4 separate regions of the Homo sapiens genome follow, and regions 1, 2 and 3 are each linked to region 4. Evidence: fine-mapped expression QTL. A gene starts in region 4. Each other region holds a variant in brackets. All regions are shown on one strand. Distances are between the middles of the regions.

Region 1 (7,725 bases), 51 kb before region 4:
GACTTTATCTTGGAGATGACAAGGAGCTTCTGGTGGGAGTTCGCAAGGGTGAGATTTGGTCAGCAGTGCACTGGAGCCTCACTCTGCTTGTTTGTGGGGAAGGTGTTTGAGTGTTCTATTGGTTCTCCAGGGTTCACAGGGAAACAGAACCAATAGGATGGATGGATGGATGGATGGATGGATGGATGGATGGATGGATGAATAGAGGTGAAGTCCCACAGTCTGCTGTCTGCAAGCTGTATACCCAGGAAAGTCTGTGGTATTGTTCAAAGGCCTGAGAGCCAGAGAGGCAACAGATGGTGTAGATTCCAGTCAAGATCTGAAGGCCGGAGAACTAGGAGCACTGAAAACCACTGAGGACAGGAGATTGATGTCCCAGCTTAAGGAGTCAGGCAGAGAGACCACTCAACTTTCCTCAGTCTTCTTGTTCTTTTCAAGCCCTGAGGGGATGATGCCCACCCACAGTATCTACTTTACACAGTCTACCAGTTCACATGCTAATCTCTCCTGAAAATACCCTTGCAAACACACCTGGAAATAATGTAGAACCAGCTACTTGGGCATCCTGTGGCCCAGGCAAGTTGGCACATAAAATTAATCATCACCCGTGGAGCACGACTAGAGGCAGAGTGCACCAGTAATATTCCAGGTGCTTAGCACAGATGAACCCACATTCATCCTCACAACAACCCTAAGGGGTAGGTGCTATTATCATCACCAATCCTGTTTTACTGATAAGAAATTGAGGCACAGAGGAGTTAAGTAACTTGCCCAAGGCCCCAGGATGAGAGCCTAGGCAGGCTGACTGGAGCCTAGGCTTTTACCCACCAGTTGGAGGCATCTGCACGATGGGCCCTGCAAAGCTGTTGAAGCTGGAACTCAGGCTTGACCTGAGACTTGGTAAATCCTAAAAGATTGATTGATTGATTCCTTGGCCCCATTCAGTCATGTATCCAGTGTGTACAGAGCACCTGAGATTAGCCAGAGTCCTGGGTCCTATAGGTACTAAAAAGATTAAGTAGGTTTAGACTTCTATCATCATTCCTAAATTAGATGGTTGGTTGGACATGACAGGCGTCCACATAACTACTTATTGCCCTGGTTAGCGAACAGGCCTGACTCTTATAGTTTTGAAGGAGTGCCGTGTGTGTATTTGTGTTTGTGTGTGCTCGTGTGTGTTGGGGGAAGGTGTTTGAGTGTTCTATTGGTTCTCCAGTGAAGCTGTATGTATGAAGCTGTTTCTGAGAAATAGTGTAATCTTTAGAGGCACCGCCTTCCTTGGCCATCCCCACAGTTATCTCAGCTATGATAGCAATAATAATAATAAATGTCTCTACTACTAAGTGCTACTAAGTGCTCCATTTAAATCTTATAAAAATATTATTTCTTTTCCTATCTTACTTTTTTTTTCCTTTTCTTTATTCATTTTTTTTTCTTTTTGAGACAAGGTCTGGTTCTATTGCCCAGGTTGGAGTGCAGTGGCACGATCTCGGCTCACTGCAACCTCCACCTCCTGGGGTCAAGCCATCCTCCCACCTCAACCTCCCAAGTAGCTGAAACTACAGGCATGTGACCCCATGCCCAGCTAATTTTTTTTCTTTTTCTTTTTTTTTTTTTTTTGTAGAGATGAGGTTTCACCATGTTGCCCAGGCTGGTCTCAAACTGATGAGCTCAAGTGATCCACCCACCTCAGCCTCCCAAAGTGTCGGGATTACAGGTGTGAACCACCATACCCAGCCTTCTGTTCCCACCTTAAATAAGAAAAAACTGAGGCTTATAGAAGTTAAAAAAAAAAAGTTACCCCAAGTGACCAGATTTGTAAGTGGAAGAGCACAATTTAGACCTAGGCAGTCTGACCCCAGGATCACAAGACTTCAGCGAGTGATGTTATGTTCCGAGAGAGGAGATAGGTGAACGAGGATTTTGGAAGGACCCCTCATTGTGAGGTTTGTAGTTGCTTTACATCTTTGGGTTTGCAGTTCCAGAATAGAAGGCAGCTGTCATTCCCTACCACTTCTAGTGCTTTCCCTGGCCTTAGGCCACATTATTATTATTATCAAGCAGCAGGTAAAGGTGATATTTAATTATATTTTCCTAGAATTAAACACTTTATATAGAACATTCTTTTAAAAATAAAATCCTTTTGTATATTAATATTGATAACAGTAATACACTTTCCATTTTTTGAGTACTTACAGCACGTACTCTATGCTAGGAGCTAAAAATAAGGGCCTTGCATACATTCACTCATGTCATCCTCCATACAGTCCAGTTAGGTAGGCATTATCATCATCTTACAAGGGAAGAAGCAAAGCTCAGATGCTAAGGACCTTGCCCAAGGTCATGGGACACAGCTTCTTTCCAAACCATAGCCACACCCATCGGCTCTGCAGCTGCCACACCGAGAGCCAGCTGCAGTACTCTCGCCCATCCCTGCCCTCACTGCTTGTCTCTGAGACACTCAGACCCTGCTGGCTCTGTGCACCCTGATTTCAGTAGCTGTATTTTGCTGTGGGGGCTCCTGCCCACCCTGAGCTCTACACACTCCCCTGACTTTTGTACACTCCATAGTACCTTCTTATAGCCACAGCCATACAGAACTCCACTGGCCAGCCCAGCCCTGGCCTTCCAGTCATGGGACAGAGCCTGTGTGTGTACAGTTAGACATAAGTTGGGCCAGGAGTGGTGGCTCATGCCTGTGATCCCAGCACTTTGGGAGGCCGAGATGCGTGGACCACTGAAGGTCAGGAGCTCAAGACCAGCCTGGCCAAGATGGTGAAATTCCGTCTCTACTAAAAATGCAAAAATTAGCCAGGGTGTAGTGGCCAGCGCCTGTAATCTCAGCTACTTGGGAGGCCGAGGCAGGAGAATCTCTTTAACATGGGAGGCGGAGGATGCAGTAAGCCGAGATCATGCCACTGCACTCTGCCTGGGCAACAGAGTGAGACTCTGTCTCAAAAAAAAAAAAAAAAAAAAAAAAGTTAAAAACCTGGGCCCTTTCACACTGCCACACAGTCTTGGCACTCAGCTAACATTCACCAGAAAATAGATAATTCTTGTGGGGCAAAGGGAATATAGGTGTGTGTGTATGTGTGAAGAAAACAACTAAGTGAAATGTGACATTTTCCTGTGTCCTTGAGTTAGCAAAGAGAACTGAAAGTGGTGCTCTCCTGCATGGATAGCGGCCTGGAGCTGCTGTGCTGTCAAGCCTGTGACAGTTTCAGCAAAGCCTGTGTGAGGCTCTTGGGACTGTGACTTTCATGTGACTGCCATTATGCTAAGGAAATAATAAAAGTAGTTGGGCCTCGTGATTTGACTTTATGGCTCATTGTAAAGCCAAAGAGTAACATTTTGGTTTTGATCCATTTAATAATAAATTGTAGAGCATCATGCAATGTGTGAACAGATGATTTTCACAGGCTGGGTATTTAACCCTTGGGCAGGACAAAGCAACAGACAAATAAACGGCAACAAAATAATTAAACTTAATTCACAGGAGAAGTGAGAAACAGAAGAGTTCTAAACTGTAGAAATCCTTTAGAACAGAGTCTTGTGGACTTCTCCAGCCTGACCAGAAGTTTTGTTTTTCTTCATCCCCTTCACTAGGTGGTCATGAGGAAAAGCAGCATTCTCCCTCCCAAACACCTGGGATGCTCCCTTTCTCAAGCACTTCCACTGTCTGGGCTCAGGACCCTGTCTCATCAGCTCGCTCCACAGTCAAATGCCTTGTGAATTTTCTTTGCCAAATGAATGTGCACAGAAGCCAAGGCAGCGTGGTTTACTCTAAAAAGAATCCAT[T/C]TGGGGGCAGCCATGTCCCTGCGGGGTCCCTGGCACCTGAATATAAACCTCTTTCTCTTTTGAAAATATTACTAAATATGTTAATTTGGGAACAAAATGCAGTCACCATGTCCACCCACAATGGGCAGTTATGCAGAAGATAGGAGGGTGGCAGAGAGGGGACTGCAAAGTGTGGGTGAAGAAACATAAGAGAAGAGGAAGAGGGTAATAAAAAGAGGAACAGAAGCTCATTCTCCCTGGAGAGCATCAGGGCAGGATGCTGTGATTATTCTTATTGCAAGGAAATATGAGCAGCTTGTCTTGATTCGGCAATCTCAGAATGTCAACATTTATCCCCAAATAGCCAAGTTTTCTGTCACCAACTCGGGAGGGGTAGCAGCCTTGAGTGCTTCTCCATGGATTCTTCAGCAACTGGCCAGCAAGATTTAAATGAAATCTCATGTGTTACATTTACACCTACTCCCCCTTTTAAGTTGGATTCTTTATTACCACTGGTATTTGGGGTGGCATTTTAATACCCATGTCAAAAAGTTGAAAGCAATTTGCACGGAGTTTGTTCTCCAAGGATTCTCCCCTGTTCTTACCAGCCTGAGAAGAAGAAAAGTGCAACATTACTTCTTCATTTTTCTTCAGTGATGACAAAAGTCCTGTTATTAAAGTGAATACTAAAAATGGTTGTCTGCATAATGAACCTGCTTATTTTCACAAACTTTAGCCTTTGCTTTTGAGTGTTTTCAATTCAGATTTCCATACTTGCCAGTTAACTGACACCTAAAAAGCAGATATAAGGCAAAGAAGAAATTGGGGGAAATATTTTTCAGTTTTTTGATACGGGATAGTCAAACATGACAGGTAAAACATTATTGCTATGAAGAACTCACACAGATAAGAAAAATACAAGCTTGCCACTGGGAAAATGAACAAGGGCATAAATAAACAGCTCACAGAAAAAGAAATACAAGTGGCTCATAAACATAGAAGAAAATGTTCACCTCGGTAGTAATCAAAGACATGTAAATGGAAATGACAAGGCAAGGCCGTTTTTCACCTCCCAAATTGGCAAAGTTGGCAAGAGGATGAGGAAGTGGTCCTTCCCACACATTGCTTGTGGGAGAGTCAGTTGGTTCAATTTTTAAAGTAACTTAAAGTCCAAAATTCATCTTAGATTCAAAAGTACTTTTGACACAAGGACTTTATACAACTAAACAAAGTTACAGTCAAATATTTAGGATAAAAAATATTCGCCATAGTCTTACAGTAAAAAATTAGAAACAAATATCTAATAGCAAAGAGGTAATTGCATACATTATTTCCTATTCATATGATGAAATATTATATAGTTGATAAAGAAATCATTATGAATAACATTTAATATACAAAGCTTAATTTAATATTAAGGCTTTTAAGTAGGACATATAAAATTAATACTTTGATCCAATTGAAAATTCTTTCTCATAGAAATATGACTAAGTGTTAAGAGTGGTTACTTCTGGTAACAGGAATTGAGAGTATTTTTTTCTTCATTCATCTTACTTTCTTCTAGTGGTTAGGAGCCAGAGTTCCTAGGCTCCAACCTTGACTTCTCTGCTTACTTAACTAAGTGATTATAAGCAGGTAACTTCATTTCTTAATGTCTCAGTTCCTCTACTTGAAATAAAGGGATAATAACAACAGCTACTTTACAAGATTGTTGTAAAGATCAATATACATAAAGAAATGTCATACTACTGCCCTCAGACATTGTCAGTACTCAATTGTTGCTATCGTCTTGACAGTTGTCAGTATTTTCTAAATTAAAAAAGATTACTGATTTAAAAATTAGAATTTCAAAACCAGTGAATGGTCAAGGCTGGCCTGATTAGGTCCATGTGCAAATGAAAAAGATTCAGGAATCACAGGCGCTCTCAAGTTGAATCAAAGCATATGGGTAGTACACTTATTTAAATATTTAAAAAAAAAAAAAAAGCAGGCAGGAAGGAAGGGAGGGAGGGAGGAGCTTCAGGTGGAAGTGCTCCTGTAAAGATGACTGGGACATTGACAGGTAGGATATAAGGTTTGCTGAGACCTTGTTGGAGTTCCGTGTTTCATTTGCAAAGAGTAGAAAGAAGTGGAGAAGAGACTCAGAGGAGGACAACAAGAAAGATGAAAGAGAGGAAATGTTGTTTCATGAAAAAAAGTTCCAGTCTTTTCCATCCCAGAAGTGTAGCTACTGAGCAGTTGAAGAACTATGCTCAGCCCCTTGTGGACTGAGTGGTTACCCTCCATCTCCAGCAGGTATGAAGCCCACGGATAAGCCTCTCGCTGTAGGGAATCATAGAGTTCACATTCACAGCATTCCCACACTTCCCTGCTATCAAGAATCACCTGGGGAGAGGGAAAGCATATTTTTAAAAAGACGGTTCCGCCGGGTGCAGTGGCTCATGGCTGTAATTCCAGCACTTTGGGAGGCCGAGGCGTGTGGATCACGAGGTCAGGAGTTCAAGACCACCCTAGGCAAGATGGTGAAATCCCGTTTCTACTAAAAATAAAAAAAATAGCCAGGTGGGGTGGCGGGTGCCTATAATCCCAGCTACTCGGGAGGCTGAGGCAGAGAATTGCTTGAACCCAAGAGGCGGAGGTTGCAGTGAGCCGAGATATTGCCACTGCACTCCAGCCTGGGAGACAGAGCGAGACTCCATCTCAAAAAAAAAAAAAAGAGGATTCCTAGGCTCCTCTCCTGGAGATTCTGACTTGGTAAAGTCAGAGCTGGGGCCTGGTAGTGTAACCACCCAAGGGTTCACCTTGCCCACTGCCTAGACAGAGCCCATTTATCAAGACAGGGGAATTGCAATAGAGAAAGAGTAATGCACACAGAACCAGCAGTGCGGGAGACCAGAGTTTTATTATCACTCAAATCAGTCTCCTCAGAATTCAGGGATCAGAGTTGTTACGGATAATTTGGTGGGTAGGGGCCAGTGAGTCAGGAGTACTGATCGGTTGGGTGGGAGATGAAGTCAGAGAGAGTCGAAGCTGTCCTCTTGCGCTCAGTCAGTTCCTGGGTAGGGGCCACAGATCAGATGAGCCAGTTTATCAATCTGGGTGGTGCCAGCTGATCCATCAAGTGCAGGGTCTACAAAATATCTCAAGTACTAATTTTAGGTCTTACAATAGCGATATTATTCTCGGGACCAATTTGGGGAGGGTCGGAAACTTGTAGCCTCCAGCTGCATGACTCCTAAACCATAATTTCGAATCTTTTGGCTAACTTTTTGGTCCTACAAAGGCAGTCTAGTCCCCAGTCAAGAAAGGGATTTGTTTCAGGAAAGGAGTAGTATTGTCTTTGTTTCAAAGTTAAACTATAAACTAAGTTCCTCCCAAAGTTAGTTTGGCCTATGTCCAGGAATGAACAAGGACAGCTTGGAGATTAGAAGCAAGATGGAGTTGAGTTGGTTAGGTCAGATCTCTTTCACTGTAATAATTTTGCAACAGCAGTTTTAATAGTCTCTAGTGAAGAACTGATGACTTGGACAGAACAAAGGCCTCCCAGGATACAAGAGCACTGAGCTGGGTGGCAGGATGCCAACAGCACCCCCAGGGCTGGCCACTTTGTCTAGATTGTTAAACAGAGATAAAACCACAGATACAGGGAGCAGGACCAGGTGATTGTTACACTTTTATAACTCCTTGACTTTTCATACTACTAAAATCTCTCCTGATAAATTCTCTGCCTGCCATTTAAGACTATTTCTGGTCTGGCCTATCCCAACTCTTCCAACTTTATGTCTTCCTGGTCCCCAGGCCCATTCTCTGCCTGATTCCAGGATAATGCTACACTGTCCATATACCACATTTTCTTTTCTTGGCCTTTGCCTGGCTTGTGTCCCTCACTCAACTGTCCCTTCCTCTCCCTTGACCTCTCAGATTCTACCACTCCCGCTAAGCCAGGGC
Region 2 (7,725 bases), 40 kb before region 4:
ACCCTCCTTAAAACTGATGTATCTCTTCCCTACTTTTATATCCTAAGATCCTGAGCTTTAAAATAGCTAGCCAAACGAAAACACCAATGGAGACTCTTTGGAAGGGACTGTGCTCAGTCTGAGGACCCAGAGCCAAGTCACAGACATGACCTCAAAAGCCAGTACTGTGCTCTTCCACATGGCATCCACTGGCCACGTGTGGTGATTTAACATGTGAAATGAAGTCTCAAGGCTGAGATGTGATGCGAGTGTATAATACACACTAGATCTCAAAAACTTAGTAGAAATAAAAAATGTAAAATATCATAAAAAGATTTTAAAACTACATAAAAAGAAAAAAAATTTCAAAAGAAATAAAGACAACAAAACAAAAACATAAAATATCTCACTCATGATTTTTGTATTGATTACATGTTGAAATAACATTTTGAAATATCGTGTTAAATCGAATATAGTATGAAATTAATTTCACCTGTTTATTTTTTTTTTAAAGTGTGGCTAACAGAAAAGTAAAGATATATGGTTGGCATTATATTTCTTTTTTTATTATACTTTAAGTTCTAGGGTACATGTGCACAACGTGCAGGTTTGTTACATATGTATACACGTGCCATGTTGGTGTGCTGCACCCATTAACTCATGATTTACATTAGGTATATCTCCTAATGCTATCCCTCCCCCTTTCCCCCACCCCACGACAGGCCCCGGTGTGTGATGTTCCCCTTCCTGTGTCCAAGTGTTCTCACTGTTCAATTCCCACCTATGAGTGAGAACATGCAGTGTTTGGTTTTTTGTCCTTGCGATAGTTTGCTGAGAATGATGGTTTCCAGCTTCATCCATGTCCCTACAAAGGACATGAACTCATCCTTTTTTTGTTAAATGGCTGCATAGTATTCCATGGTGTACATGTGCCACATTTTCTTAATCCAGTCTATCATTGATGGACATTTGGGTTGGTTCCAAGTCTTTGCTATTGTGAATAGTGCCACAATAAACATACGTGTGCATGTGTCTTTATAGCAGCATGATTTATAATCCTTTGGGTATATACTCAGTAATGGGATGGCTGGGTCAAATGGTATTTCTAGTTCTAGATCCTTGAGGAATCAGTTGGCATTATATTTCTATTCCACAATGGTGGTGGATAAATGTTATATGAGGAGAGGGGTGATGCTATAAAGTATTATAAAGACACTGAAAATATGCTGTGGGAGGAGAAAGAAAGGAGAAATAATTTCACATGGGAGACCCTGAAAAATTTCCTGGAAAAAATGGCATCAGAACTGGGTCTTGACATATAGGATTGTAGGAAAAAGGCCTGGAGGCCTTTTACCCGGATGTAGGATGGGGATTTTGACCTCAGCCGGCTGGAGGACCCAAACAGATTCTGTGATGCTATTGTCCTCCAATTGGATTTGGTTTCCAAATCCAATTGCCCATCATTACCTGGTATAGATTCCTGCGTTTGTCTCAGATCTCATGAGCCAAGAGTCACTGGGGTGAGGCCCAGACATCCTCGTCCAGAGTTCTTCAAGCAATTGTCTTATAGCTCATTTGATCCCAGTCTGGGAAACTGTGTTTGGAAATGCTGGGTGCAAATGGTCATCTTTGGGCCTTGAGAGGCCAGCCTCAGTGGGCTTTCCATAATCCACAGCTGCAGGTAGCCATGGTACCTCCTGTCCTTGTATGTTCTTTGAGGAGAAGCACTGAGCAGGAAGCACCTGAAATGCAGAGCTTGGGAAAAAACAGCTCATGCCGTGGGCTCCTAGGTGGGTCAGCCATTTCCCCTGTGGAGGCAGAACAAGAAGGACTTTGTAGGCTTGTAGTTTCCTCAGTTACCACCTAAGTTACTTGTTAAATGGCCCTTCCTGCATACAAAGTGACAGGCCTCTGCCAGGAGTACTGATTCCCCACCTCCAAAAAAAAAAAAAAAAAAAAAAGTGAAAGAAAAAATTCGCCATGGGCGAATATTTGATCACTCTGGACAGTGATCAAAAGCTTTTTATACTTTCAAAAGCTTTTTATAACTACAGTATTAAAAGGAGGAAGAAAGAATGACAGAGAGGGGGACAGACGGGGAGAGAGTTTGTTATCCTGACTGCGTGTGGTGAGTGAGTCTATACTCAAAAAACACCATTATTTTCTTCTCCTTTTCTTCTGCGGCTCTCTACATCTCTCTCCCATCTACAGCAGAGTTTCTGTAAGTGTGGTCCAAAGACCATTGAATCCGAATCCAGTGGGGTGGAACCCAGTAATTTGTTTTTATAACAGAGTCTTCAGATGAGTTCTAGGAAGGCTACATTTGAGAGCAGTTGCTTTAGAGGTTTATGATCCCCGGGATTACTTACCTGGCACCTGATCCAGTACAGGCTGTTCCTTCCCAAGGTGTTTCCCTTTTCAATGCTGGTCAAACTCATCGTCCTACCCTCTCTCATTTCTGCCCTGTGTGCAGCCTTGGAGCTCAATTTGAGTTGTGCAATCACTCAGTGCCATTCTTACTGCGGCAGAGGGTACCTAGCTTCTTCGCAGGAGCAGAAACCCCATTATGTGCTGGAGGCACACAGGGAACCAGACAAGGTCCCTGTGCCAGGGAGCTCACTGTCTAGAAGAGAAGTCAGCGTGAGAGAGACCAGGAATGAGCTTCAGGCATGCAACAAAAATGGTGTATGTGCCCACATAAATTTTACTGGTGAGAAGATATGGAGATACAGGTCTAGATCTATAGGTCTAGGATATATAGTTCTATAGATATAGGATCTATAGATATGGGAAGATTTAGAGATCTAGATCTAAAAAGGCTGAGCTACAGAAGGGATTAATAATGAAGATGAGTGCTTCCTAATAGGAGTGCTTGCTCCCCAATTGGCATGCTAGCAAAATTATGTCAGGTAAGCATCTTTAGTAACTGTCATTAGCAAGTAAACTATATGCTCCAGAATGGGGAATATCAGGATGCAGAAAAATTTCCTTAGGTAGGAGGTCAAGGTGTCCCCCAAGGCACAACTCAAATGCCATTCGGGAACAGTCTGGTCTCACAATAGTTATATGTGGGTATGTATCCTTTCAGAGAAGAATGAGGTTAGTATGGACAGACAGTCAAGAAAAATGCTATAATAGAAATGGATTGTGAGTTGTACCATAAAGAACAATTGGCCAGGGCTTGCTGGGTAAGATTTGAAGCCACAGGCCCAGCATTACCTCCCACCCCTGTTGTTCTGAATGCTGGAACCCCAGCTGCATGGTTGACAGAGAATCACTGAGAAAACAGCTTTCTTAGGAGCAGCCCAATCCACACCAAAATCTATGCTGGGTGCTAAGGAGGGAAGATTTCTGCATCCGTAGCCATTCTTCCTAGAGAGAAACTTTCCCAAGAGCTTCCTCTCTGAGGTTGGGGTCGATCTGGAGAGAGCAGAAAGGATGCCTTGAGCTCCCTGTATGACCCCCAGCTGAGCACAATCCAGAAGTTTTTACAAGAAATGATGGTGGGGGGTGGGAAGGACCATTCCTTCTCTGGACAAGAGGTGGGGTGGGGAGTGGGGGCGGGGAGACTGCGGCTGGAGCTTTGAACCTGATCTCTCAACCTCGACAGGACAACTCAGCAGCCAGCAGCGGCTTTCTTATGGCTCCCAATTTGGCACTTCTAATGCCCCCTCTTTGAGGGTGGGGGATGGACTTTCCAAGGAGGAAAGAAACTTGCAGAATCTTCTAACTGGTAACACACACTCAGAATGTTTTAGGAGAGGCTGTAGTCAGAGGCTGTAGCCCCCATTTTTCAGGGGCCCTCTTGGTCAAAGTATGTATGACTCAGGCTGTGAATGCCAGATGAATTTAGGTTACAGGCATGGCCTCACTAAGAGTGCAAAATGATTTGCTCTTCTGTGCAGGAGCAAATTTCACAGGCCAGTCAGTCACCAGCCAGCATATTGGTTGTGCGCCTTTTCATGCCCACCGCACGGTGTGGAAGAGGGTCTGTGCTCTCTGCGGTTACCTGAGGTCCTGGTCTTGCCAGCTATCACTGTAGAGTCAGTTATGTCTCTGAGTCAGGGCTCATCTGGAGCACAAGGATAGTAACTAATTTTACCTCACTGGGTTGTAGTGAAGATTAAATGAGATAAAGCACC[C/T]GGCACATTGAAATATTTGTTAATGTGACTTGTTTCCTTCTTTTACTTTAACATAGCAAAGCTGCAGTATTTTAGTAAATCTGATACCAGTTATTTTGCACTAGTCATTCTCTGAAACTCAGTTTTAGATGGCTTTCTGGGTTCCCTCCAGCTGCAAAAATATAAGTATCTGAGACTCTGAGTTTGTTTCCAATAGGCTTTCTCTGGGTTGGAGAGACTGTTCCACAAAGCCCAGGAGGCTGCAGATGACAGTACCAAACCAAGACATGCAGCTGTCCGGCTGCAGTAGTCTGTGTGAAAGATGAGTAGAAAGAGAGGAAAAAGTCAGAGCTCAAGAAGAGCTCTAAAAGAAAAGACAGCTGCAAGTTTGTCCTCGAGTAAATCAAATTGTGACGTTTATTGGGCTATTTCCAGAATAACACCTGCAAGAAAACTGGAGTGCAGGATTACCTTTCCAAGAAGGATTTAGTTACGATAGCCTACAATAACCAGTATTGTCTAATGGAGTCAGTGTGGCTTAATGAAAAGGTTATAGGTTTGGCGGTGCACAGACCTAGGTTTTAGTTCTGTCGCTCCTACTTTTTATTAGTGATTTGGAGCAGGTTATTTAACCTCCATGCCTCATTTTCCTCCTCACTTAAAAAAAGGTAAATAATATGAACCTTGCAGGGTGATTGTGCGGGTTAGGAAGAAAAGTACTTGATATACAGCTGATATTCAATAAATAGGAGCTATATGGCTAGGAGCACATTACACCAGGGCACATATCCTAGAGGCCTCTGGACCTGGGACCATCATTTCTGAAGCTTATAGCTTGTTCAGGGTAGAGAACTGAGGGGGGTTTGGGAGGAGGCAGCAAGTCTGGGGTGGGTAGGTAGAGAGCAGAAAAGAGATCAAAAGGCCTATAAAGATCTGTCAAACTTTAAAATGCAAATCCTGTTGTGGCTCAGTAGAGACCAAATCTTTCATTATCACCTCTCTGGGAAGGGCTTGAGGGGTGGGGGGGTGGGAAGGTTAATTAGTCTTTCCCTTCATGGAGTGTTTTGGTTTCGTGTGGTGTGGTTTTGTGGCCAAGCCTGGGTATGTGATAAATCTTTTATTCAACTCTGCCCTGGAAACATGGGTAGAGTTAAGAAACTAACAGCATATGGTTTTCTTTATGAGTAGACCATGAGTTCCTCAAGGAAAGGAAACTATCTAACCCTTGTGATAGCTCCTACAGTTTGCAAGATTCTTGGCATAGAGTATTTGCTTCCTGAATGGATGGATGGGGTGGTGGATGGATGAATGTTAATTCTGAGCATAGTAAGTCATCTTCACTGGCTGGCAATTTAGTTCTCAGGGGTCTCCTTGCTCTATCCTTCACTGGGAGCCATGATAGGAGCAATCCTCATGATGGTGGCCCTCTGGGAAACTCTGGGATGGTGCAGTCTCTTCCAATGGCCAAGGGTCTGTGCAGTCCAATCACTTGGGCAGATTATGCTGCATGGCAGCTTTGCCTTACTGCTGGCCCTAAAGAGGTAGCCTCCTAGGTCCCACAGTTGGCCATTTATTTCTGGAGAGAGCGTGGAATTCCAGGAAAGTCCCACAGAGGAGACCTTCAAGAGTAAGTGGGCCAATAATTATCTGGCACTCACTGTGTGCCAGTCTCGATCCATCTTGCCCCTACCACAACCATGGCCAGAGTGAGAAAGAAGAAACCTCACTGCCTTGCTTTCTCTTTCCTCCTTTCCTCTTCTCTTGCCCGCGTTTTCTCATAAAACTATACTTGTAAGTAAAGAGTGAGGCTTTTTTCCAGAAAAAAGTATCTAGCAAATGTCCCTCTCTGGAATGCCCTAAAACACATGTCATTGATGACTCTTTCCTGGATAAACTCACTGATTCTCTAAGTCTCATCCAAGACCTGACAGTCTTACCCTCCCCCTAACTGGCATCCACCACAAAAGGCTCCTATCAAGTTTCTCAGCTCTAGGAGGCCCTATAAGGACCACCTGTATCTTCACTGACCACTCTCTTCTACATTCTGGTGCCCTCTGATACATTTCCCTTCACTCAGCACTTACTGTATTTGTTATCTCAAGAATAAATGAGTCTGGCATCACAACTAACTTATAAACATCTTGAAGGGAGGAAGCAGATGTTTTCCCATGTACTTGGCAGTATGCCTGTCCCAGGACTGAATCCATCTTAAGAATTCAATAAAAAATTGCAGCATGTTCGTGGTCAAAGCCTGGGCTTTGTCTTTACATAGATTTGGGTTGAAAAGCTAACTTGATTTATTCATTGAACAAGTATGTATTAAATGCATACTGCATATTAGGCACTGTTCAAAGCTCTGGGAATACAACAAAGAGTAAAGCAAAGTTTATTCTCTTGTTATGTTACTCTAGTGATAGGAGACAAAGAAAAAAATCTAATAAGTTGTAAAGAAAATAATACAGGGTGAGAGGCAAGTGTGAAGGAGTGGTGGTAGGAGTGGGAGGTGGCTACTTAGCTAACGTGCTCACAAAAGTACTAGCCAAGAGGCTGAGACCTCGGTGGTGATAAACAGCTTACCATCCAGAGGTCTGTGGGAAGTCCACACAGAGTGGGCAGCAATGGCAAGAGCCAGAGTGTACAGTAAGCTTGGTATGTTTAAGGAAAGAAAGCAAGCCATGTGCCAAGGGCCAGGGGAGCAAGGGGAAGCGACGGAGGATGAGGTGAGGGAGACAGGTAGCCACAGCTGCTGAGGAGGCTGGGATTTACAGAGGGTGATAAGAAGCCATGGGACGCTTTTACACAGGGGGTGGTTAGTATGTGATTTGCGTTTTCAATAGATTAATCTTGCTGATATGTGCACAACAGAAAGGCACGAGCATTTTGAAGCAGGAAGATCAACTGGAAGGCTGTTTAGCAGTTCCTGCAAGAAAGATGGTACTTTGGAGTAGCAATGCTACCTCCAAAGGTAACTGGGAGATTTGTGTACTAAGTGTGACCTCAGGCATGTTGCTTTCCTTCCCTGGACTGCTTTCAAGAGAATAAAAAATGTACTTAACATGATCAGCACGGGGCCTGGCTCATTGCAGATACTGTGCAAAGGTGATTCAACTAAGACATGAACACTAAAAAGGAGACACTCTTAACTCATGCACCACTAAGAACTTGCAGAGGACTCATCCCTGTGGTTAGAGCTTTGGAGAGTAAGGAAATGACTGGAATTCTGCCTGTCCCCCTCATCTTCATTCTGGGGGTTTTCATATGAAAACCCCCCAGCCTCCTACAATGTTGACTTTAATAGTTATTTAATTAACTTATTTATTTATATATTTATTTATTTTTGAGACGGAGTTTCGCTCTTGTTGCCCAGGCTGGAGTGCAATGGCGCGATCTCGGCTCACCGCAACCTCTGCCTCCCGGGTTCAAGGGCTTCTCCTGCCTCAGCCTCCCAAGTAGCTGGGATTACAGGCATGTGCCACCATGCCCGGCTAATTTTTTGTATTTTTAGTAGAGACTGGGTTTCTCCATGTTGGTCAGGCTGGTTTGGAACTCCCAACCTCAGGTGATCCGCCTGCCTCAGCCTCCCAAAGTGGTGGGATTACAGGTGGGAGCCACCGCGCCTGGCCTA
Region 3 (4,000 bases), 82 kb after region 4:
CACTTTGGGAGGCTGAGGTGGGTGGATCATCTGAGGTGGGGAGTTTGAGACTAGCCTGACCAACATGGAGAAACCCCATCTCTACTAAAAATACAAAATTAGCTGGGCATGGTGGCACATGCCTGTAATCCCAGCTACTCGGGAGGCTGAGGCAGGAGAATCGCTTAAACCCGGGAGGCGGAGGTTGCAGCGAACCGAGATCACACCATTACACTCCAGCCTGGGCAATAAGAGCGAAACTCTGTCTCAAAAAAAAAATTTAAAAAAAAAAATTTTTTTTTAAATAATAAACAGTAAGCAAAGTTTGACCCCCTAACTTTATATACAAAAAGTAATTTAGAAGTTGATCATAGACCTAAATTTAAAACAAGCTTCTAGAGGAAGAGAATGTCTTCATGTTTTTTTGAATGGGACACAAAAAGCAACCTACTCAAAAGAAAAGATTGATAATTTGGACTTTATTAAAATTAAGAACTTCATCAAAAAGTAACATTAAGTGATAAAAGAAGCTACAGACTAGGAAAAGATATTTGTGATGCATACATGCAACAAAAGACTTACCTAGAATTAAAAAATAGTAAGAAAGAGACTGACATCACATTTAAAATAGTCAAAAGGCTTAAATAGAAACCACTTTAAAGTATCTAAATGGTGAGTAAACACATGAAAAAGCGCTGTTAGTCATCAGAGAAATATTATTTATACCACAGTAAGTTACTGTCACACCGTTATGATGATGATGAAAATGAACAAGACTGGCAATATTTTGTGCTGGTGAGGATGTGGAATTGCAACTCTCATATATTGCTTGTGGGAGTGTAACTTGGTCAAACTAATTTGGAAACCTCTCTGTCGATGTCTGTTAAAGCAGCTCCATTCTTGGGCATAAACCCAAGAAAAAATTAGTGCTTATTTTCTCAAACAGATATATTTGAAAATGTTCAAAGAAGTTTTATTTATCATAGCCCAAAACTGAGAAACCCAGTGTCTACCTAGAGTCAAATGGATAAATTCGGGTATATTCAAACAGCGACATACTGTTCCGTAATGAAAATAACAAACTGCTGTTGCACACAACATAGATGATCTGACAATGGCGAGTGAGAGAAGCCAGTTACAAGGATGTACATAGTGTATATAAATCTGAAGTATATGTACAAAAGAGTATGTGTAACCTCTACATATGAAGTTCAGAAACTGTTAAGAGTGATTTTGGGTGATTAAAATCAGAATAATAGTTACCTTTTCAGGGATGGTAATATACAAATAGTTTGCTTAGATGCTGGGGATATTCTTGTGTCTTGATCTCAGTAGTGGTTACCCAGGTGTGTGTATGTATTCATGTAAAAATTGAGTTGTACACTTTTGTGTTCTTTATAAAAACTATTACTGTAATAAAAAAATGGAGAAAAAAAAGTATTAGAAGTGCTTGAATAATTTATCTCCACAGCTAACTATACAAAACAACTCAAGCTAGACTTTCTGATGTTGTCATCTCTGTTTTTCAAAAGAATACCAGAAGAATCTTTAATTTATGTGGCCTTCATTTTACTAATAAGGAAAGTGACACTGAAGTTCCATGATATGTTAGTAATAGATGAGAGGGTAAAAGCTAGATCCCCCAGATTTACTTGGGGCTTCATTTATTAAATTGGTGCAAAATACAGTGTGGGGGCAAGATTGCATCTTGGTATTTAGTTCTTGCTTTTTTATATGGGAATTTTTATTTGCTTGATTGTTGGTTTGGTTTGTTTAGACTTATGATAGGTGTAAAATTTTAGAGTATGTTTAGAATTGGAATATTTACCTTAGAATATTAATAATGTTAATATTAAAAAATAAATGAATGCTCACTTGAGAGCAGTATCACTTTTCAAACAGTGAATTGAAAAGTATTGGAAGCTATATGTCTGCTATTGATATGAAACTAGTTGTTGCTCTTTTTTCACCTTGTATGCATATATGTATATCTGGAATTTTGTCAAAAAAATAGAACCCTTCCTAATGTTATTGTATATTCTCAGGAAATTGTGTGAATGATTTGCTGTTAATTTTATTAGTTGCTTTCTTATTGTTTCCATGGACCTTTATTTAGTAAATAATTTTTTAAAGATTTTATTTAGCTTTTAAAAGAAATTTAAAATTATTTAAATTTTAAAAGATTTTATTTAGAATTCAAAATAAATACAATACAAAAGAAATTTTTTTTTTTTTTTTTTTTTTTTTGAGACGGGGTCTCGCTCTGTCGACCAGGCTGGAGTGCAATGGCATGATCTTGGCTCACTGCAACCTCTGTCTCCCAGGCTCAAGCAATCCTCCCACCTCAGCCTCCCAAGTAGTTGGGACCACAGGAGTATGCCACCA[T/A]GGCCAGCTAGTTTTTGTATTTTTGTGTGTGTGTGTGTGGAGATGAGGTTTCCCCATGTTGCCCAGGCTGGTCTCGAACTTCTAGGGTTCCTTTAAAGGATTCCTAAAGCAATCCTTTAAATCTTTTAAAAGATATATTTCAATGCATTTCTTTGGCCAGTGTAAGCTTTTTAAAGTTGATTTCTGTCCTTTTGACGTTCAGTAATCACTTTTAATGCAGCTTAACCACTAGGTGTCACTATAATTCAAGTAACAAAAAATCTCAGCACTTTTAAATGTTTGAAGCTTAAGTTTCAGGGTTAGGTGTGGTGGCTTACACCTGTAATCCCAGCACTTTGGGAAGCTGAGATGGGAGGATTGCTTGAACCGAGGAGTTCAAGACCAGCCTGGGCAACATGGAGAAACCTCAACTCCACCCAGAAAAAAAAAAAAAACACAAAAATTAGCTGGCCGTGGTGGCATACTCCTGTGGTCCCAACTACTTGGGAGGCTGAGGTGGGAGGATTGCTTGAGCCTGGGAGACAGAGGTTGCAGTGAGCCAAGATCACACCATTGCACTCCAGCCTGGTTCAACAGAGCGAGACCCTGTTTCAGAAAAAAAATTGTTTTATTAACATTTTTTAAATTAGCCTTTGGAATTTTGGTCTGTTAGATTCAGTTATGGTGAAAAAGGTTTTCAGTTTTATTCTCTTGCAGTAGAGCAAGAAGTACCATTATACGTATAACTGTTTTACTGTAAAATTTTTTGAAAGGAATGGGTATTTCCAAATCACTAAGTCATTTTATTCCCATCTCCTTTTTACTGTAAATCTATTATTTATCTGTCTTGTAAAGAATTTAATCTGGCCTTTCATTTACTTAGTTTTTTGTTCCTTGTCAACTCATTCTCTTCAAGGTTCAGCCTGGAGAAGGAAATAAAGCTGCTTTCAATGACATGAGAGCCTTGTCTGGAGGTGAACGTTCTTTCTCCACAGTGTGTTTTATTCTTTCCCTGTGGTCCATCGCAGAATCTCCTTTCAGATGCCTGGATGAATTTGATGTCTACATGGTATTGTTAAATTTTAAATTCTCTTTTTCATTTTTTTGTTTGTTTGAAACATGTATTTCTAAAGGAAGGAAATCTTTCTTTAGTTTTACCCCTAACAGGAAAGATCCTGCCCTGACTCTTTAGTCTGTGACCAGTAGTGGGGAAGAACTAAAGAACTAGAGTTCTCTCCCTTGCTTCTAGGCACACAGTAACCCTAGAGACCCTGGAGGGGTCCTCCTCTTCTCGCCCAGCATGGATATCCGTGCCTTCCATCATATCTGCGTTTTCTCCCTCACCCTCTCTCCCAGCTTATTTTCATCAACCCATAAATATGTTCAGACTTTTTGTTTTAATACAAAATTATAACCTGTTCACCACCCTGGCTTTGACTCACCCTAGCCACTGTTTACTGTTCCTTCATACCCACACATTTCAGAACAATGTACAGAACATAAGCGAGCAAGAACTTTTGAATTTCCAGTTAAAAAGCATAGGATTTGAGACCTACCTCTGACAGGCAAAATATCTCTACTTATTGGGTCTCAATTTCTTCATCTACAAAACAATATTATTACCAATTCCTACCTCTCATGGTTAGAGTGAGGCTCA
Region 4 (7,725 bases):
TTTTCAAATTAGAAAAAAGTTAAAAAATATGTGACCCTATTTATTAGGAGTTGGAGAAATAAACCAGAAATCTTTTTAGATGGTTTGCTTCTTGGCTAAATATTAAGTGACAAATTTAAATAGAATTCATGGGTCAAATTAAAAAGTACTGTTCTGCAAATTTACAAGTACTTGAATATTAAATACTACTTCAGTATAGCTTTTTGAGGGAAGAGAAATTCACATTTTCTGGTTTCCTTCAGATTGCCTAGAACTAGTCCTGTGGAGTTGGCCAGGGCACATATTTTCTCTGGCAACTTCCGGTTCTAAGGTTCAACATTCCTACCCTGTTTCTAATGATTCCTTTCGTAGGTTGACTACACATACACAAATGAATAGTAGTGAAGATTGCCACCTAGTGCAGTGATGTTTATGATGGCACACATAAACACACATTTATATATAGGACTGTGATGTTAACTGTATTCCTTCTGAGGGTTATGGTAAAAAAAAAAATAAAACAGCAATAAGGTAGACTCTTGATTTTATAAACTGCAGTCCTCTAAGTATTTCAAGTATATTAAGATCATTGTGTAAAGCTGTTAATTAAATATATTATTAACAGGGGGCAGCCATGCCTAAAAAAAAAAAAAAAAAGTCCAGCACTGATTCGATTATTGGAAACCCCTAAGCAAGATAAAGAGGGCTTTTAACCCCATAAATAATATCTTTAATATCACATGATTACTACAGTTAGAATTTAGTTTTTATTATTTCATTTCTTTTGTCGGAAACAAACCTGGTTTAAAGAATGATTAACCATGGTTAGTTCTGAAAGAGGAAAATTATGTGAAATGTACATTTTATTAGAAAGAACATCATAATATTTTAAGAACGCAATTAACTCCAAATCTCTGTTTCCATCATCAATTGTTTTCCATTCCTTATCACATGTTCTTTGCACCAGCTGTTCCGCGGAAGTGATATTAAGAAGCAATGGTTAAGACTGTAAAAGCATAAAACATTCCAAAAAAGGACAGAATGCAATAGCTTCTAAGATATTAAAGTACAACTACACTGAAAGATAGAACAGATGGTTCTTGCATGAGGTCATAATCAATGTGATGAGGTTATTTGAAAATGGCTCAGCATTAAGTAAAATTTAAAAATACTACACTAGCCGGGCATGGTAGCTCATGCCTATAATCCTGGCTCTTTGGGAGGTCGAGGCAGGCGGATCACCTGAGGCCAGGAGTTTGAGAACAGCCTGGCAAAATGGTGAGACCCCATTTCTATAAAAATAAATAATAAAAATTAAAAATACTACACCAAGAACTATGTATAATTTCATCTTGCTTTTTAGTTTTTTTTACTATGGTAAAATTTTAAATTTTTTTGGTGTGGGATTTGGTGAGTTCCCACTCAAATCTTTTATAATGAATAAGTATATTGATGTCAATCTGTTCATACAATCAACATATATATATCAAAAGAAGTCTAACATCTTCATAATTTTTTAAGAATTAGCTGTCACACAAGTCTACTTACATGAATCAATGATGTAAGAACAACACATAGCAAATAACTTTATAAACCTATTAATGGCTTAAATTGATTTAGCTTACTTATTTGAATCAACAAAGTCAGAACACATAGCAAACCACTTCATAAGCAATGGACTTCAGATAGGAAGCCTAGGATTTGGGTTTTGAATATACCACTGATTAGGTGTATGACCTTGGGAAGACATTTAACCGTTCTACAAAATGACAGGTATTAAACCAGATGCATTACAAGATTCTAATATCTGTAATCTAGTATTTAATATTTGAATTGCATGACCAACTGGTAGCATGGAATAAAAAAAAATCACTCTATTTCAGAAAGTATTGCTTGGTATAATAGAAAGAACATAAATTTCCATCTTAAAGGACTTAAGAATCCACTTCCAGTTAAAACAAAAACAAGTCCTTTGATGTAACCATATGGTGCCCATAAATCAATTTAAGTTCCTAAAACTTCCTTAAAAGCTAATAAGCTTTTATTGGTTAATTATAAAACTGAATGAGGTGAGAAAAACACAGAACCTTGTTAATTTCACTAATGAATCAAATTTAAAGAACATAAAGAGGTCAGGGGCTTAACTGATGCAAAAATACACACTTTATTAAAGCAAGTTTTGCAATTTAGTTCAGCTTTAAGAAAAACATTAGAAAATTTACTTCGGAAAAGCAGAAAATGCTTAAATTTCCCAATTTCCATTTAGATGAGTATATATTCATATAAAGACTGGTAAATGGTGAAAACTATTTCAATGCAAGATTATATTTTAAGGGATTTACCACATAATCTCAGTAACTAATGCTGTTCTTTAAAATTATTTTTTCAATTTTATTTTCATATGAATTTAGCCTAAACGTTGAGGCATACTTCACGTTTATCAATAAATACTTATTAAATGTCTACTATTTAACAGGAAAGCTTTATAGGTGCTGGAGATACAATAATGGAAGATCAAGCCCTGCATTTAAAGACCTTAGTAGGGTAAGTGAGACTGCAGATAAAAAGGGCTTAAGAGGTAAGAAAGCAAGCTATAGTTGTATTTAGGAAAAAAGGTCCCCCACTTAGGAATCAAGGAACGGTTCCTGAAGCAAGTGACATGTAAGTAGGGACCTCCCAACCGTGTTTCCCATTGGTTACAACAAGGCCAGATGTTTTGGTCTATTTTGACTATGTCATATTTTTCGTTGATCCATGGCAAGGGCCACAGTAGGAATATAATATATATGTGATTACTTTTAGAAATAAAAAGTGACTTTGATGTAAAGAATTCCATTACCGGAGGCCAGAATTTCAACATCAATTTATTTGGAGGTGGAGTGAGGTGGCAGTCAATGCATTATTTTCCCCACACAGAAGAGAAGATTTTGGAGTATGAAAAGTAGGTTACTTGTTAGGTCAGCATATTCATGGGAAGGGTTGTGTAAAGACTGAAGCGGGAGTGTGGGGTTGAGAAGGGCGCTGAAACCTAAGCCAAGGAAGTTAAGACTTCATTACTTCTGACGTTTATTTAGGGGGTTTACACTCTAGGTTACCGTGGGGGAAAGACTGATTGTAAATAACTACAATACCTTAAAGTAATTACTATAACAGAACTATATCCGAAATACAAGGTTAACACGGAAAAGGGAACACCCAACTGTGCCTATGGGGACCAGGGAGGGCTCTCCCGGGATGGCTTTGAGCGAGGCGTGGGAATTATCCCCATCGCATGCCCGGGGGAAGCACAGCGGGACCCAGCAGCTTCGGCCAAGCGCAAGCGGCCGGAGAACGCGCAGCTTTCCCGAGGCGGGGTGACGCAGGGCCCTCGCGAGTGGAAAACAGGGGCCAAGTCGCGGCCTGGCGGCTCGGTTCGGACTTCCTACTTTATTCAAAGGGAGTCATTGAAGGCGTTTTCGGAGGAGCAGCGAACAAAGAGCTCGTCCGTAAGCCAGATGGTCAAAGGAATCAGTGGGAGGACCCGGGCGGCGCCGTCTCTCCACGTCCCGCGGGACTTACCCGGACAACCCTTCCTCCTTGGCTCTGGAAGAAGCCCCTTCGTCATTTACCAGTTTGGCCTGAATCCTAACTACTGTGCCTCCAAATTTCTGAATTTTCTCAAAAGGAAAAAAAAAAAGGAAAGTCCTCTTTCTTTACCCAAGCAAAGACTAGCTCCCCGGGCTCAACCGCCAGGCCCAGGAGCACCAGGAAGCGTTTCGAATCCAGCGCCGGGCCCGCGCGGCCCCGCCTCTTCCGGGAAGTGACTGACCCCTTTCCCCCAATGGGGCCCGCTCGGCTTTCCCTTGCCGGCTCCCAGCCGGCCTAGCGGACGCATGCGTAGACCAGCTGCCGGGGGCGCTCAATTATCTTTCCCTTTTACTTAGGCAAATCACTCACCTCCCCCGAGTCCGGTCACTGCGGAGCCGCCCGTGCCTACCAGCTTCCCCCACCCGCTAAGGGGCACTTCCGGCCTCTCAGACTCCGGCGGCGCGAAACCCCGCAACTGCGCAGGCGCGGGCGGAGCCCGAAGGGAGGGAGGGCGGGGCGCAGGCGCGGTTAGTACCGCGGTGGGCGCCGGGGCTCCCGGGAATCTACCTTCTCCTGCGGCCGGCACGCGGTTCCCAGGGGGCCAGCGGCGGTCAGCCGAGGTCGAGACGCCCGCAGGGTGGCCTTAGCGGCCGGTCGTACCACGGCAGCCCCGCCGATCAGGTTCCTTTGGGAGACTTCGACTTGTTGGCGGTAGGGTGAAGGCGCGCGCTGTCGCTTTCCCTTGCTCCGGGGTTCATCCTCCGCCCGCTGCCCCCTTGGCTGGCGACCCCCAGCCACCCGGGAGAGGCAGGGTCAGCTGAGCTGCGGCGGTGTTCATGGTCGTCCTTGCGGGCCCGGGCGGGAGATGTCCGTTCCTCGGGCGGGTCGGGCGGCCGGCGGCACCTTCGCGCGCTCTCCGAGGCGGCACCGGTCTCCTGAGCCGCGGGAAACCTGGCGTCTGCTCCGGGCCGTCCCCTCCCAGGCGGCCGTCCCCTCCCAGGCGGCCGTCCCCAGACTCTCCCGGGCTGTGGCGAATAACTGTAAAGCGGGGAGAGGTCTGGGGAAAGCTGGGGTAGGGAGTGGCTCTTAGCATGAGTCTGATGATATCTCGCAGGCGGCAACTGGTGTGTTTAAAGGGTGTATGCAAAGATCACTGAAATCGGATTTGTCATTAAAGCCCAGTTTTACGAAAATGCAAATTGTATTACCTAGAAAAATTAACATGTGTTCAAAGGTTTACTGATGGCATTTCTCTGCCCTCATTTCTTACAGAAATGAACCGGAGAAGAATCCCAATTGGGAATTGCGGAAAACAGGACTCTAGGGTAGAGAAAGGTTGTAGAACCAATAGGGTTTGAGGTAATACTGTGAAAATTCTTAGAGCAATCATTTGGTGTTTGAGCCCTCAAGACAGAAGTTTTGTGAGCGCTTATTACTCTGCATATGTCACGAGTAGTAGATTAAAAGCCAGTGTTTTAAAGGCAAACTTCTCAGTAATATATATTCAAAGGAAAAAAGAAAAACCCAAATCTCCTGACTTTTATATGGTTGCAGTGTGATCTTTTAACATGTACAATAGTATATACAGTGGCATGCAGTTTGTTCCATGGGTGTGTGGGTAGAGAGGGAACATATTAGAACTTCTATTTAGATTTATTTCATTTGATTTCTACGTGAAACATAGGGTATTAATTTTATGTTGGAACATGTATTTCAAATTTCTTTTGCTTAATGGGTGCAAGTACAAAACGTTTGGAGGCCACTAGTATATTGCCTAAAAGCGTGTATTTATATCACAAAAAGCCAGAATTGTGTGACTCTGAGCAGGTTGGTACCACCTCTTTAAGTTTCAGTTCTTCTTATGCAAGTTGGAAGAAATAATACAGTTATCAGTGCATCCTCTGTATCCGTGGACTCAATCAAGGGACTGAAAATATTTCAGAGGAAAAAAAGTGGATGGTTGCACAGACTTTTTTTTGTTCTTGTCATTATTCCCTAAACAGTACAGTATAACAACTATTCACATAGCATTTGCATTGTGTTAGGTTATATAAGTAATCTAGAGATAACTTTTAAGTATGTGGGGAGGTTATATGCAAATATGACACCATTTCATATAAGGGACTTGAGCATCTGTGGATTTTGGTATCTGAGTGAGAGAGAGGGGCTGTCATTTTGGAACCAATTCTTAGGGATTGACTGTACCTAGCTGACAGGATTCTTAAATATGTGGACACAGAGAGGAAGAGAAAGTTATGTAGTTATATATCGACATCTGTCTGCAATCCGTATAAACCAGTTAGTATTGAGCCTGGCAAAAAGTACACAAGTCATGTTAAAGGTATTACAGTGAAAAACAAGTTTTATTCCCCAAAGGTTTATTTTACTGAGTGTATTTTACTGAATCTGTAGAATTTTATGTAAAACCTACCTAAATCTTGACTGTCATTTTTAGACCAAAGTTAGGAAAAATAATTAAAGCTGTACTTGGCTTACTTTTAGGAATTAGTAAGTAACTCAAAATTTTACCGTGATAGCTTGCATTATATTTAAGACACAATTAAATGCCATAGTTCTTTATACACAACGATAAGTCCAGCTGACTGAGGGTCAAGCGTAGTTGCTTAGGTTAATGTTAGCATTTTTGATTCACTATTTAAACAAGTTAACATCTTTTCTCTCTGAGCATGCTTTTCTTGGTCACCAAATTCAAACTACTTCCAGTAGCTTCCTTAGCTCCACCCACAAATCTTTCTCCATTGCAGAGTATCCTTTACTACTGACTGGCCTCTATCTCAAAATACCTTAGGAGCACTTGAAACTCAGTGTTTTCTTTCTTTCTTTTTTTTCCTCTTTTTTTTTTTTTTTTGTTTGAGACAGAGTTTTACTCTTGTCGCCGAGGTTGGAGTGCAGTGGTGCAATCCTGCCTCCCGGGTTCAAGCGATTCTCCTGCCTCAGCCTCCGGAGTAGCTGGGATTACAGGCATGCACCACCACACTTGGCTAATTTTGTATTTTTAGTAGAGATGGGGTTTCACCACGTTGGGCTGGCTGGTCTTGAGCGCCTTACCTCAAGTGATCCATCCATCTCGGCCTCCCAAAGTGCTGGGATGACAAGGCGTGAGCTACTGAGCCCAGCCCAAACTCAGTGTTTTCAAATAAAATAAATTTCATTCTCCCTACTTGCCAAACCTGTTCCATGAACTTATAATGGCATTTAGTATTAAGTGTGAAGATGAAACACAAAATGAAGTTTTATAAAGCACACCCAAAGTTTTGATTGACTTTAATAGTAACATTAGAGAATCTTTTTTTTTTTTTTTTTTTTTTTTGAGACAGCTGTTCACTCTTGTTGTCCAGGCTGGAGGGCAGTGACATGATTTCGGCTCACTGCAACCTCTGCCTCTCAGGTTCAAGTGATTCTCCTGCCTCAACCTCCTGAGTAGCTGGGATTACAGGCATGCGCCACCAAGCCCAGCTAATTTTTTTTTGTATTTTTAGTAGAGATGGGGTTTCACCATGTTGGCCAGGCTGGTCTCGAACTCCTGACCTCAGGTGATCCGCCTGCCTTGGCCTTCCAAAGTACTGAGATTGCAGGCATGAGCCACCCGCCCAGCCAATAATAGAATCTTTTTTTTAAGTTTAATGAAGGATAGACGAGATGAAGGACAGATTAATAGCCAATTTCACTCTCTATGAATAATTAACTGTCAAACTTCAGTTTATGCCAGTAGGAACCTGGGCGTTAAAGAGGTTTAACTGGGTTTTGACAAACCTGGATTTGGATCTGAGCTCTGCTATGTTAGAGCTATAGAAGCCTTTGTATGTTAGAACTAAGTTGTAGCTACATAAATTCAAGTCATTTACTTGTGCCTCAGTCTCTCCTTTTGTAAAAATAAGGGCAATATTTATCTCATAAAGATGTTGGGGATCAAAGGAAATAGAAAGTGTTCATCTCAAAAGCTAAGTATGTAGTTATTCAGCAGATGTTAATTCTACTCACCCATTTGTACTCACCAATTCTACTAATTCAGTCTTTTAAATCTCTTGTTTTATCTCTTCCCTTTGTCCCTGATATTACCACTGCTTTTGTTTAGCAACTCATCTCTTCTGCTACTATTCTTACTTTCTGTTTCATCTATCTTCTATATTGAGCCACAGGATGTTTTCAGTACAGAAA

Direction of the effects. Positions count from the first base shown, and alleles are read on the strand shown. Sizes are in standard deviations (SD) of each study's normalised expression. Not every link is listed here.
For the expression in unexposed skin of the gene that starts at base 4,073 in region 4, allele C in region 2 goes with a higher level than allele T (small effect, 0.24 SD a copy in GTEx).

Evidence for each region. PIP is the estimated chance that this variant, and not a neighbour inherited with it, causes the effect. A credible set is the group of variants that fine-mapping cannot tell apart.
Region 1: its variant is the best candidate, but not a certain one, in a credible set for the expression of SMC6 in lung (TOPMed, PIP 0.56).
Region 2: its variant is the best candidate, but not a certain one, in a credible set for the expression of SMC6 in unexposed skin (GTEx, PIP 0.61).
Region 3: its variant is the best candidate, but not a certain one, in a credible set for the expression of SMC6 in blood mononuclear cells (TOPMed, PIP 0.74).

What each region holds. Positions count from the first base shown.
Region 1 is chr2:17,800,836-17,808,560 of GRCh38, reverse strand. No RefSeq gene overlaps it. Among named protein-coding and RNA genes, the nearest start is that of MSGN1, 12 kb to the left of the region's middle. The variant T/C (reference allele first, on the strand shown) is at 3,799.
Region 2 is chr2:17,790,221-17,797,945 of GRCh38, reverse strand. All of the region lies in intron 3 of LOC105373449 (a long non-coding RNA gene), which reads left to right. Among named protein-coding and RNA genes, the nearest start is that of MSGN1, 22 kb to the left of the region's middle. RefSeq lists a silencer at 6,090-6,384. The variant C/T (reference allele first, on the strand shown) is at 4,122.
Region 3 is chr2:17,669,835-17,673,834 of GRCh38, reverse strand. It overlaps SMC6 (structural maintenance of chromosomes 6), which reads left to right. Exons shown (of 28, transcript NM_001142286.2): 26 at 3,260-3,412. Among named protein-coding and RNA genes, the nearest start is that of SMC6, 82 kb to the left of the region's middle. The variant T/A (reference allele first, on the strand shown) is at 2,365.
Region 4 is chr2:17,750,158-17,757,882 of GRCh38, reverse strand. SMC6 (structural maintenance of chromosomes 6) reads left to right here and starts at 4,073. Exons shown (of 28, transcript NM_001142286.2): 1 at 4,073-4,257; 2 at 4,819-4,905. GEN1 (GEN1 Holliday junction 5' flap endonuclease) reads right to left here and starts at 3,745. Exons shown (of 14, transcript NM_001130009.3): 1 at 3,538-3,745. RefSeq lists silencers at 3,958-4,097, 4,238-4,597.